2 linked regions of the Homo sapiens genome follow. The protein of the gene in region 1 interacts with the protein of each later gene in a pairwise test. Each region holds a gene or a part of one and is shown on either strand. Other genes may lie near its edges.

Region 1 (7,028 bases):
CCTTCTTTCTTGCAGTGACCGCATCTTCTCACTCATTTCTTGTAATTCTTGTTTTAGTTGGGCAATTTGGCGTTTCAGACTGGTTGCCCTGGTCTGATAATGTTCTTCTTGTTCCTGTAGGAGGGCTTGATAATACTCTTTACCATAATTTTCCCCAACAACACCAGGAAGAGATGCATTTCCATCAGTCTGGGGGGCACATTCCAGGAGGTACATAAATAATACCAAACTGCAGAGCAAAGCAAGGCCCAACAGCAACCAGTGGGTCCGGGTGTGAAGAATCAGTCCTCTTCTAGGCATTCTTATTAATGTGTATTTGCCTAACAAAATAAGCTCTTTGTGTGTTCATACCTTTAGTAAAAAGTTATCAAAAATTAAAAACAAAATCAGAATTTCCATAAAATAATTCTGCCGTAGCTTTAAGTTTTTCTTTCTTCAGCAGTCATGACTACTTGCAGAAATGGGAAATTATGTATACTTTCTGTATTGTTACCATGATATCCAGAATAAAGCAATCTGATATATAAAATCCATTATATTGGTAGTGATTTTTCTGAAAGACACAGATCAGAATCAATCAGAATTTTGTTCCCTTAAGGATATCAAATTTGTTTGTGGCTTCAGTAAACTTAGCTACGTGACTACTACATGCAGAGAACTATGAGAGGTACTAATATAATTTAGAATATTCAGTAAATACTAGGAGAATTTTTTTTTTTTTTTGAGATGGAGTCTCACTCCGTCACCCAGGCTGGAATGCAGTGGCACAATCTTGGCTTACTGCAACCTCTGCCTCCTGGGTTCAAGTGATCCTTCCATCTCAGCTTCCTGAGTAGCTGGGACTACAGGCATCTGCCTACCACTCCCAGCTAATTTTTGTATTTTTAGTAGAGACAAGGTTTCACCATGTTAGCCAGGCTGGTCCTGACCTCAGGTGATCTGCCTGTCTTGGCCTCCCAAAGTGCTGGGATTACAGGTGTGAGCCACTGAGCCTGGCCTGGGAGAATTTTTTAAAATACCTTAAAAAACAATAAACTATGTATAATACTTTTAACTATTATGTCTACACAGCTATAACTTGAATCAAAGAAACATTAAAATTACGTCAGCATAGTCTGTATTACATATATTCTACTGTTCTCTAATTATTTGAAAATTATATTGCCTATAACTCTTTATTAACATAGTATTTCAATTACCGCACCATTTCCCAACTAAAGCTTATGACCATTTGGGAACTGAGTTTATAGAAACTGTTTCTGTTACAGTAATAACGGTTTACTGGAGAGAGAGATTTTCTCCCAGTTTATTCAACTCAAGCATTCTACCTCATTAATTTCTACTGCTCAGCTCAGCCAATCTAGGAGACTTAAAATTAAGTGGGGGAAAGAACAACTTCAAAAGCTCACAGACATCTGAAAAACACATTAAGAAAACATTTTTATATCCAATGTCCTCCAGTAGATTATTTGCACATTAGATCACATAATTCTTTCCACTGTATTATGCATCAACAGATTTCCTACAAGTCTAGAAAGGTTTGGAGTCTATATAAAGAAAAAACATGAAGAATTTAATCATCCTTATCAGCAGAGAAAAAAATTCAAAAACCATTTATACATTTATAAAATTACATGCTATCGTTCATGCCACAACCAGTTGTGCGAACTCTTCCATGTCTTTAATGATTCTTAACTCTAAAAATAGAGGTTTAACTTAGGACAAGGGAGGCAAGGAGGACTCCACTGCAAAGAGAACTTCCATTGTAACAAAGTGCTTGTTGAGAAGGATAATGTGATATGACAGCAGGTTTTTAACAGTAATGGTTTTCTCACTGCAGCAAAACCTGGAAGATCACTACAGGTTATCAGTCCTAGCCACTTTTTTAATGAGTAGAAAAACCTGGATGCTTTCTGTGGCAAATGCTGCAATGCGTATTTTTTTTTTTTTGGTAACATGTCTGTATAAAACATAGGACAGAAGAAAACTTCTTATGGCCAATATACCACAAATAATGGTCTTAACTCTCCTTAGTCATTTATTATTTTAGTAAACGAAATGATAACCAAGTATCTTGAAAAATTTAACTCACTACAAGGGAGTCCTTTTTTTTTTGAGACAGAGTCTTGCTCTGTCGCCCAGGCTGCAGTGCAGTGGCGCGATCTTGGCTCGCTGCAAGCTCCGCCTCCTGGGTTCGCGCTATTCTCCTGCCTCAGCCTCCCGAGTAGCTGGGACTACAAGCGCCGGCCACCACGCCCGGCTAATTTTTGTATTTTTAGTAGAGACGGGGTTTCATCGTGGTCTCATCTCCTGACCTCGTGATCCGCCCGCCTCGGCCTCCCAAAGTGCTGGGATTAGCCACCGCGCCTGGCCAAGGGAGTCTTTTACTATTACAGCATCTCTCTTACTGATTATAAATCTTGTTTGAGTGATGTAGAAAAAAACAGAAAAAAAATAGTTGGCTTTAAGAAATACCATCTAATCAAAAAATAACTAGTATTATTTCCAGGACTTAACCATACCTCAAAACCATAATCCCTAGCATAAGAAAACACTTGAATTTCATTATTTAAAAGATAAACCTAGCGGTATCTGTTTTAACTATTACTAGCCCATTTATTAGGAAAAAGAACTGAAAATGTGGAGACATAATCTTGTATAATAAAGATATACATACTTTAATTAATAAAGATATACATACTTAAGCATGTTATACTCAAAACTGAAGTGAAACTGGGTAACAGAACTACCACTATCTTTTATTAATATGGTACCTCATATGTTTTCTTTATATACACAATGTATTTTAGACTATGAGCTATAACTCAGACAATAGGTCACTACTGAAGGTTTACTTTTCAATAAAATAGAATGGAAATTATCAGTGGCAGTGTTAAAAAGCTAAGGTCATTTTTCTTCCTCTTCCCTTTAAGGGAAATACAGGTTTTGAGATATCCTACTTAATATTACAGTTGAATATTTTCCAATAAAATGAAAGGATACTGTAATTACTTCAGAATGTAAAAGTTGCATAATTCTGTGGTTATTAAAAATGAAAGATTTCAATTAAAATCTTATTTGCCTAGTTCCCGAAAGAAACTCTTTGGCCATAATCTAGAAGATTACATTATAGCTGTTCTATCATATAAATATATTAAGAATATTATAGAAAACATTTTTCTGTTGTTACATCTTGATTGTCATCATTCTATGAAATGTGTTTGTATCATGAATACGGTTCATTCACAGCCCAGAGTTAATCCCAACAAGCCTTCTAAGCACAAATGCAGATAGTTAAGTGTTTTGAGGAGAGAAAAGGATAATGTGAAGATGGGAAAATAAGCTGTTAAAGGTATGTAATATGAAGCCAAAGATCTCAGGATTGAAAGAAACCTTACAAGCCATCAATTCTAACTCTCTAAAACTGCTTAAAAAACTGACTTCCTTTTACGACCAAGATGAAGTAACGGGCCAGATTTACTCTCAGATTTGCTCTCTTTGGTTGTCTTGAAACAACCAAAAACAAACAAACAACTTTTCCTGCCAACAAACCCAAAATATGAAACAATGATTTTCAAGATATTTAACATCAGGTAACAAAGGACAGTGATCCCCAGAGAAACAAGAAACAAGTGGTTGCCAGCTTACTGCCTTAGTTTCTGAGCCACACAAGGAGGGGAACCTAAGCAGAGCCCAGCAGATTCCCTGAGTTCATGGGATGCAGCTCATAGTCTGAAGAGACCAAGGTATCTAGGATTAAAGCATATAGTACCAGAGTGGATACAGCTGCACACAGAGAGAACTCCAGAAATCTGAATAGGATATCCCATGGGTATTTGGCAGAGCACTGATAAGTAAAGGCTTATGAGGCAACTAACGGGCTAAGGAAAGGACCACACACAAAATTAGAGGACACAGAACCCAGCATTCATACAGGGCCAGGATTAGTGCATGTTCCCAACAGACAGACTGGAAAACCTCAGAATTCCCAGGGCACTCGGTAGAGCACTCAAAAAAATCTTGTCTCAGTAGTGGGAAATAATTAGCTCTAGACTAAACATGGCACTAATCCTGCCAATACATCTTAAAAGCAAGACTTGAAAGGATCACATTATTTCCAAGTAATAGCACAACAAGCCTTAAGAATATTTATAAGAATACAGAAATATCCAGTACTCAACAAAATAAAATTCACAATATCTGGCATCTCAACAAAAATTACCAGGTATAAAAAAATATGATCCATAATGAAAAAAATCAACAATTAAAACTGACCAATGATTAGAACTGACAGATGTGGGAATCTGCAGAAAAAGGACACCAAAACAGCTATCATAACTGTATTTTTAAAATGATGTTTATGTTCAAAAATTTAAGTAGAGGTATGAATGACATAAAAGAGATCCAAGTTAAACTTCAGGAGATGAAAATTTCAGTGTCTGAGATGAAAAATACACTGAATGGGATTAATGGCAGATTAGATATTTTAGAAGAAAATATTAGTAAACTAGAGATGTAGCAAAAGAAACTATGCAACATACAGAAAGAAAAAAGAATCAAAAATATAAACAAAGCATTGATAAGCTCTGTGACAACTTCAAACAGCCTAATATACATGTAACTGGAGTCCCCAAAGAAGGGGGAAGGAGTCAGGAGAAATACTTAAACAAATAAGGCTGAAAATTTCCCAAATTTGATGGAAACTATAAACACACATAAGAAGCTCAACCAATCCCAAATAGCCATAAAGAAAATTATAGCAAGGTACATGATAATCAAATTGCTCAAATCCAATGTAAAGAGAAAATCTTTAAACTGGCCACATGAAAAATGCACATCACATACAAGGAACAAAAGATAATAATGACAGATTACTCTTTGAAAACTGAAAGTAATTAGACAGTGGAACAATGATCTTTAAAGAACTAAAAAGAAAAATATGCCAGCCTACAATTCTATACCCAGAGAAATTATCTTTGAAAAAGGCAAAATACTTTCTCTACATAAAAAGCTAAAGGAATTCATCACCATCATACCTGTACTGTAAGTCTTTTAGGCAGAGGAACATAATACCAGAAAGGAATATGGATTTATACAAAGCAATGAAAAACATCATTAATGTTAACGACATTGGTAACTAAGATTTTTGCTCATTATTATCTAAATCTCTTCAAAAGATAACTGAATAAAATGGACAAAATCCTAGAAAGATAGAAACTAACAAAACTGATTTAAGAAGAAATACCAGATATGAATAGACTTATATGACAAAAGATTGAATTAATAATAATAAAAAAACTACTCACAATGAAAAGTCCAGGCCAAGAGGCTTCACTGGTGGAATGTACCAAACATTTATTTATTATTACTATTATTTTTTTTGAGACAGAGTTTCGCTCTTGTTGCCCAGGCTGGAGTGCAATGGCGCGATCTCAGCTCACCGCAACCTCCGCCTCCCACGTTCAAGGGATTCTCCTGCCTCAGCCTGCCGAGTAGCTAGGATTACAGGCATGCACCACCACGCCTGGCTAATTCTGTATTTTTAGTAGAGATGGGGTTTCTCCATGTTGGTCAGGCTGGTCTTGAACTCTCGACCTCAGGTGATCCACCCGCCTCAGCCTCGAAAAGTGCTGGGATCACAGGCGTGAGCCACCACACCCAGCCTAGCAAACATTTAAATAAGAATTATTATTATTAAATAAGAATTATCTTCACAGACTCTTCCAAAAAATAGAAGAGGAAGCATTCTATAAGGTCAGTATCATCCTGCTACCAAATCCAGACATTAAAAGAAAACCATAGGCCAATATCCTATATGAATATAAATACAAAAATCCTCAACAAAATACTAGCAAAACGAACCCAGCAATATATAAGAGGAATCATACATCATGGCCAAATAAGATTTATCCCAGGACTGCAAGGTTGGTTTAACATCTGAAAATCAATTAATGCAATATACCATATCAATAGAAGACAAAATTCACTTGATCATCTCAACAGACATGGAAAAAGCATTTGACAAAATCCAACACCATTTCCTAATAAAAACCATTCAATAGGGGCTGGGTGCGGTGGCTCACACCTGTAATTCCAGCACTTTGGAAGGCCGAGGTGGGCAGATCCCACGAGGTCAGGAGATAGAGACCATCCTGGCTAGCACAATGAAACCCCGCCTCTACTAAAAATACAAAAAATTAGCCGGGTGTGGTGGTGGCATGCACCTGCAGTCCCAGCTACTCAGGAGGCTGAGTTAGGAGAATCACATGGACCTGGGAGGCGGAGGTTGCAGTGAGCCGAGATCACGCCACTGCACTGCAGCCTGGGCGACAAAGCGAGACTCCATCTCAAAAAACCAAACCAAACCAAACCAAACACCATTCAATAAACTAGAAGACACCTTCCTAATCTAAGAAAAGGGACCTACAAAAAACCCATAGCTAACATTGTATTTAATGATGAAAGACTGTATGCCTTCCCCCAAGATCAGGAATAAGACAAGGATGTCTGTTCTTGTCACTTCTATTTATATTGTACTAGAGGAGGTTGTAGCCAAGGCAATTAGGCAAGAAAATGAAATAAAAGGCATCCAGATTGAAAAGGAAGAAGTAAAACTATCCTTATTTGCAGATGATATGATCTGTATGCAGAAAATCCTAAGGAATTCACTAAAAATCTATTATAACTAATAAATGAGTTCAGCCAGTTGTAGGATACAATATCGATATACAAAAATCAATTGTATTTCTCTACATTAGCAACAAGCAATCTGAAAATGAAATTAAAAAAACAATCCTGTATACAATATGGCATCAAAAAGAATAAAATAGGAATAATGTTAACAAAAGAACTGCAAGACTTGTATTCATAGAAACTACAAAACATTGTTGGAAGAAAGTTAAGATTTAAATAAACAGAAAGACACCACACTCATGATTGGAAGGCTTAATATTGCTAAAATGGTAATATTCCCCAATTAATGTACAGATTAAACACAATCCTCTTCAAGAATCCCAGTGGACTTCTTG
Region 2 (7,028 bases), on another chromosome or scaffold:
CCAGGTCATAACAGGGGTAATAAACACCACCACTATGCTGTAAATTATAATTTTACATCATACAGAACAAATCCCACAAATATTATAGATTTATTGTCCTAGGAAGAAATGCTATCGTTATCACTTAACATTATTCAGTAATTTTAATTAGTTCTAGAACACAGGGAAACCACATTCAAATTTTATGATAATTATGAAAAAGATAGTGATCTATTGTCAAATTATTGTTTTCACAATATTGATAAAATTAACATACATATTATTCAGTCCATGTCCATCTAGGAGGTTATTTCCACACTTAATCTCCCAATAAGTTGTTTAAAGAAATCTTTATCAAGTCCTGCTTGCTATGAAAAGTGTGGAAATAAAGTAAGACATGCCTGGAAATTTTAGTTTCTACTTAAATTAACTGAAGAGAAAAATCTTTATTAGACACCTGTAGTTGAACGTTTATGCATTGGCTTTTGTGACTGTGATTAGAAATTGCCAGAAAAATCAAACCCTTGCTACTCCGAGCTCAGGCCAAAACTCTCTGAGTATGAGTACAGGCATTTCATCCATTCCATAGCTCCAAAACAGAACAAAAATGCAGGGAGTAAAACATGAGCCTTTGTGAAATTATTATCAATAGATACTATAGTGTCTTTGAGGAAAAAGAGTTTAAAACTGAAGCTGGGAAGGGGAGTTAATGTCCCTGAATGTGTAATGAACTAGGAAACAACGCAAATGTACTTAAAATGCCTGTTGTAACACCTGATTAAATTGTTCTTAAGGAGATTCAGGTTTAAGAGTTTGATTAATAGTAATTAATAGTATAAGAGGAATTTATAAAACTGCTTATATATTTTGCTATTTGGGAATAAATAAAACTTTTGTATTTGATGAAAACATTGATAATTGAAAATGTTAATTCTATAAAAAATCTGTACATTTACATTTTAATTTTAAAATATGAATTAAATATTCTTTAGAGATATTCAACATGGATATTATTTCAAAAATGAAGAGGCATTTAATAATTATCATTAATAATAGTAAACATTATCTTGAACCAAGTTGTCCAATTAATTTAGCCAAAAACAGATAGCAACATAAAGAACATCCAAATAGCTTTTTTGGGCTTGGAAAGATAACCCAGCCAGATGGATTTTATAACCAGTGTTATGGTTGTAATTGTCCTTATTAAATTGAAATGAGAATTTTGTCTTATAAGAAATAAGAAAGAAAACTTTTTCATAAGGCAAAAATTCTATCCTGTCGTGTTCTTTAGAACTGGCTCATATTTCTCTCCCTTCTCCCATGTAACTCATTATTCTTGAGAATTAATTTTTCAGCTGGATGGACATGTAGGAAAAGCAGCTTTCATCCAGTTTGATGAACAGCCGTAAAACTCAGTTATTTAACAGTGACTATGAACAGTAGAAATTAGAAAGATCCCCTGCCCAAATGCAAAACACTCAGGCACTTTTTATCTGATTTTTCTAACTCTAAACGCAATGAAGACTGGTTAAACAGATGTAATCAAAATATTCAGGCATCATTCTCATATGCCAAACCCATCAAGATGGGCCTGATGATCATGGATGCCCTTTTCTGTTCTATATGCTCAGGAGATTGGAAAACCCTGCCAAATGCTTCCATTATGCTTTGGGATCTTGAACAATGACTGAAAGGTTTGCAAAGCATCTCAAAAACGATATGGGTCCAGAAGTTGTTTATTTCTGTAATTATATGGCATAAAATAATACATTTGTTTATCTTTTTTAAACAAAATAAGAAGAAATGTAGAAAGAATACATTACCTGATCTTTCATCGTCTTCCCTAAGTCTTTTACATCTTTCATGTTAATGGCATTCTTCCCTCCTTTTTCCTTTCCCTTCTTCTTGTTTTTCTTTTTGAACAAACATTTCTTACAGATACAAAAGCAGCAGGTCAGGACTAAAAGGACTGCGACTATGGCTATTGCAATTAAGGCCCACGGTGGCACTGAAAGAAACACACAGAGAGCACTAGTCATACAACACTTAGATGTGGAAAACCTTTTAACTCATGGGCTATAAAGATATTCATTTTTTTCATTTGCATTTTTGAGCACCTGTTATGCTGCAGGTACACCATTCCTCAGTACTTTATCCATGTTGTTGTCTCCCTTGAGTGTATTGTTTCCTTTCTTTCCCACTTTGCCCTTCCAGATATGTCAAATGTCATCTCCTCCCTATTACTTTTCTTGACTCTCCAAGCTAGATTTCTAGGAACACATCTCTTCACTCATTCAGAGCCAAGCTTTGGAGTTCAGCCATTGAGTTTAAATCCTGGCTTCACCATTTACTAGCTGTGTGATCTTGGGCAAGTCATCTAACCTCTCTCTGCCTCACTTTCCTCATCTCTAAAGTGGAAATAAATTGGTAGGTACCCCATAGATCTTTCTGAGTATTAAATAATAAGATGCAGTGCCTGGCACATGGCAAAAGCTTAATAAATGGCAGCTGCTATTACTCATCTATAAAATACTAGGTGTTGTATTCTTATGTTCTGGCATGGTATGGGGCAGATATTAGTTGTATATATAGAACAACAAATGTCAAATCATAACAATAGTGAAGGTTAATTAAAAGTACTTGGTGATTTGAAAATCAAGCATGGGGAAAATGTATGCACTGAAGTTCTCCAGATGTGGGTGATGCTCATGTGTTCGGTGGCTCTTAACCCAGGTTTAGATTTTGGCTTCGGCCACTTAGAGGCTGTGTGACTCTACTCAGATTGCTTCACTGTTCTGAGTTTCTGTTTCCTCCTCTATACAGTGAAGATTACAGTGGTACCCATTTCATCTGGCTTAAAGATGAAAGGGATTAATATGTTAAAAAGCTTTTAATGCATCTGGAACATAGCAAGAGCTCAATTAATGTTAGCTATCAATTCTTTTTTTTTTTTTTTTGAGATGGAGTCTCGCTCTCTTGCCAGGCTGGAGTGTAGTGGCACGATCTCGGCTCACTGCAAACTCTGCCTCCTGGGTTCAAGCAATTCCCCTGCCTCAGCGTCCCGAGTAGCTGGGACTTCAGGCACACGCCACCATGCCCAGCTAATTTTTATATTTTTTTTAGTAGATACGGGGTTTCACCATGTTGGCCAGGATGGTCTCGATCTCCTGACCTTATGATCCACCTGCCTCGGCCTTGCAAAGTGCTGGGATTACAGGCGTGAACCACCACACCTGGCCAAAGTTAGCTATCATTTCTTTATAGTCAAGGCATGGTGGGTAAGGCAGAGAGCTCAGGACATATGAAAAAACATAAACTACTCACACAAGTAAATACCTAAAAAGCAAGATAAATACACAGAGGGGAGTTTAGTGAAAATGCAAAGGCAATGAGAGGAGGACGGATGATTTTTAGATAAGAGGAGAGGCTTAGGTTTACAGGCTGTTTAAAATAATAGAACATATATACATAAATATACTAAAATAAACATTGAGTTTTCTATTACAGTTGTCTCTCTGATAAAAGTTAATATATTTTCTTATTTGGTATGCCTTACACCATGTGCTTATAAAAAATAAGGTGACATGGAAACATTTATGATTTCAGTTAGATTGGAAGGGAAGTATTCATAATCCAAATCACAGCTATTGAGATTAATCAGAAGTAATTAGATTTGTCTGTTGTAATAAAAAAAAAAGATACTGGGCACTGAAATGATAAGAAAAAGCCAAATAAACATTACTAGAACCAATGATTGCTGAACACCAGTCAGGAATACTTTGATAAAGTAAAAACACTTAAAAATTAACCTCTCTTCAAAATTGAGAAAATCTACTCTCTTTGCTTTTCCTCTGCATTTAGTATCATTGTGCAGAATACTTACTATGCATAATATTCTGGCTTATGACTGGATACTAGATGTTAACCTAAGGACATAAAACTACAACTTTTGAAATTGTGTTTTCTACCAAAGAAATACTTATGTGACAGTTACAGATAAACCCACACCTAAAGAAGTTTTCTTCCAGTTCTCTAAATTTATTAAACAAGGTAAAGATTACATAAAAAGTAAATTATTTTATGTAACCAATGATATCATTCATAATACTTCATTTAAAAGCATCTATCTCCATTGATTTAGTTAAAATCCTGTCATGCATGAACAAGAGAGTGTATGTATTCATTGCGGGAAAGACAGCATTCATAATGACCCTTCATTTTGAACCTCATAAATTATTCTCCCAGTTGGACTTGTGTGGTGATAGTCGCTCAGAGAGCTACATAAAAGTCTCTTAAATTGTACAAGACAAGACAAAGATGATTTGACAAGTTCACAAAAAGAAAATAGTGAAAGCAAAGGAACATCATTTAATCAAAGGGAGTTAAAGAGCTAGGAACATGAGATTACAGGAAGAAATTTGAAATAATGCAACTTGAAAGTAATTTATAACCACTGAAAAACTTTTGTTTTATGACTTTTATTTCTTAAAGCACTGCTGTCTTTTAGATTTGCCTTCAGTTGATCTTCTGAATAACTTTAAGTTGGAATATGCTGTATTAAATATAATGAAATTAACAGAATTTTCTTCACAATGTATTGGCACCTTTAGATAGACAAAATAAAAAATGCTTAACGTTATCATTTTGTATAGCTATAGGATAGCTTCACTCATTAGTCATATATCATGTAAAGAAACAGCCATTTTTAGTAAATAGAGTTACTTGGATGCTCATGTTAAAATTTTATTTAATTGTGTAGAGTAACCAAATATTTAAAATTTGGCAAGTTTACTAAGAAACAACACCCACAGTATTATTCATCTGCAGTATTTGTAGAAACATGTTTCAATATTGGTCAGCAAATCTTGTGGAATATATTTTGGATCAGGCTAAAAGTTTATTGAAGACCTACCTACCTGTTATGGCCCAGCAATTTGGCTACAGTTATAGATACATTATCTTATTTATTCTTTGCAGCAGTTTTGTTCAGTATCACTGCAGTTTTACAGAGGAAAAACTATAGGTTGAATAGTTTGAGAAATTCAAATTTATCTTTAGGTCGTTAGGTTAAAAATGTGAATATTAAAAATGTATACGGAGAAAAAATTTGTATCTAGCTTTAAAGTCTCTTTAATAGAACATATTAAATTAAATAATTCAGTGAAGCAAATAACAGCATAAAATGCAGTGATTTTTTAAATACAAAATAAGAGTTTCAGTCAAAAATAGTCTCATCAAAATACTGCTACAGGCAGAAAACTATCAGTTTATTGTTATTGCTACCCAACTACCATTACATGGAAGTTTATAATAACAATTTTAACATTCAACTTAAAGGCCTTTCAGCAGAAAATAATTGACTAGTATAAAAACTCTATTAAAAATTTTATTTTCATTTTCTAGTTAATGAATCAATCTCACATATATTATCTGACCCAAAGGTAAATTGATACATAATAATTAAGTACAAGGCAAATTAATTTAAAACTGCTTCTGATGTTTTAATTAATACCTTGTGGTAGACATGATAATGGCCCCTCCAAGATGACCACATCCTATTTTCTGGAAGCTGTGAATACCTTACCCTGCCTGGTAAGAGGGACTTTGCAAGTGTGATTAGATTAAGGATCTTGAGATGGGGAAATTATCCTGAATTATCTGAGTGTAGACTCAATGCAATTACCAGAGTTTTTATAAGTGAAAGAGGCAGGCAGAAATGTCAGAGTCCAAGAGAGAGAGGGAGATTTGAAGAGTCTCTGTTGCTGGTTTTGTAGATAAAGAAAGGGACCATGAGCCAAGGAATGCAGGTGCCTCTTGAAGCTGGAAAAGGCAGGGAAATGGATTCTCCCCTACACCTTCAAGAGAGAATTGGCCCTGCTGACGCCTTGATTTCAGCTCAGTGAAACCAATTTCAGATTTCTGACCTCCAGAATGGGAAAATAATAAATGTGTGTGGCTTTTATGACAGTAAACTTGGAATAATTCATTATAGCAACAATAGGAACTCAAGTGATACAAAGAAGACCTCAAGAGATTTGTAATATATGCTGTATATAGGTAACTATACATTAGTAATATTCATGTGGGCTAGTCATGTATTTTCTGCTGTCTTTTCATTTATTTATTTATTTTAGTAGCTCTAGGGGTTTGGTTAAATGGATGAATTGTATAGTAGTAACGTCTGGGCTTTTAGTGTACCCATCACCTGAATGGTGTACATTGTATCCAATAGGTAATATTTAATCTCTCATCCCCTTCCCACTTTTGAGTCTCCAGTGTTCATTATACCATTCTATATGCCCATGCATACCCATAGCTTAGCTTTCACTTATAAGTGAGAATATGCAGTTTTTGGTTTTCTGTTTCTGAGTTACTTCACTTAGGATAATAGCCTCCAATTCTAACCAAGTTGCTGCAAAAAGACATTATTTTGTTCTTTTATTATAACTGAGTAGTATTCCATGATCTATCTATCTATATCTATCTATATCTCTATATCCGTATCTGACATTTTCTTTATCCACTCATCCATTGATGAGCACTTAGGTTGATTCCATACCTCTGCGTTTGTGAATTGTGCTGCAATAAACATATAAGTGCAGGTGTCTTTTTGATATAATGGCTTCTTTTTCTTTGGGTAGATATCCATTAGTGGGATTGCTGGATCAAATGGTAGAACTGTTTTTAGTTCTTTGAGAACTCTCCATACTGTTCTGCATAGAAGTTGTACTAATTTACCTAATACATCAACAGTGAGTAAGAGTTCCATTTTCACAGCATCCATGCCAGTATCTATTTTTTTTTTTTTTACTTTTTATTAATGGCCATTCTGACTGTAAGGTGGTATCTCATTTTGGTTTTAATTTTTATTTCTCTGATGATTAGTGATGTGGAGCATTTTTTTCATATGTTTGTTGGCCACTTGTATGGCTTCTTTTGAAAAATCTCTCTTCACATATTCCCACTTTTTATGGGATTATTATCTTTTTTTCTTGCTGATTTGAGGTCCCTGTGGATCTTGGATATTAGCCGTTTGTTGGATGTATAGT

Evidence for each region. The genes of interacting proteins can lie anywhere in the genome.
Region 2: the proteins of CSGALNACT2 (region 1) and SYT1 interact in binary tests that used the Homo sapiens proteins (3 or more experiments, as listed by UniProt).

The regions. Positions count from the first base shown.
Region 1 is NC_000010.11:43,148,422-43,155,449, reverse strand, and holds part of CSGALNACT2 (chondroitin sulfate N-acetylgalactosaminyltransferase 2), read right to left. Parts: intron 5,664-7,028; exon of another isoform or gene 5,307-5,663; intron 554-5,306; 5' UTR 301-553; coding exon 1-300. UniProt on the Homo sapiens protein: Transfers 1,4-N-acetylgalactosamine (GalNAc) from UDP-GalNAc to the non-reducing end of glucuronic acid (GlcUA). Required for addition of the first GalNAc to the core tetrasaccharide linker and for elongation of chondroitin chains.
Region 2 is NC_000012.12:79,280,746-79,287,773, reverse strand, and holds part of SYT1 (synaptotagmin-1), read right to left. Parts: intron 1,988-7,028; coding exon 1,803-1,987; intron 1-1,802. UniProt on the Homo sapiens protein: Calcium sensor that participates in triggering neurotransmitter release at the synapse. May have a regulatory role in the membrane interactions during trafficking of synaptic vesicles at the active zone of the synapse.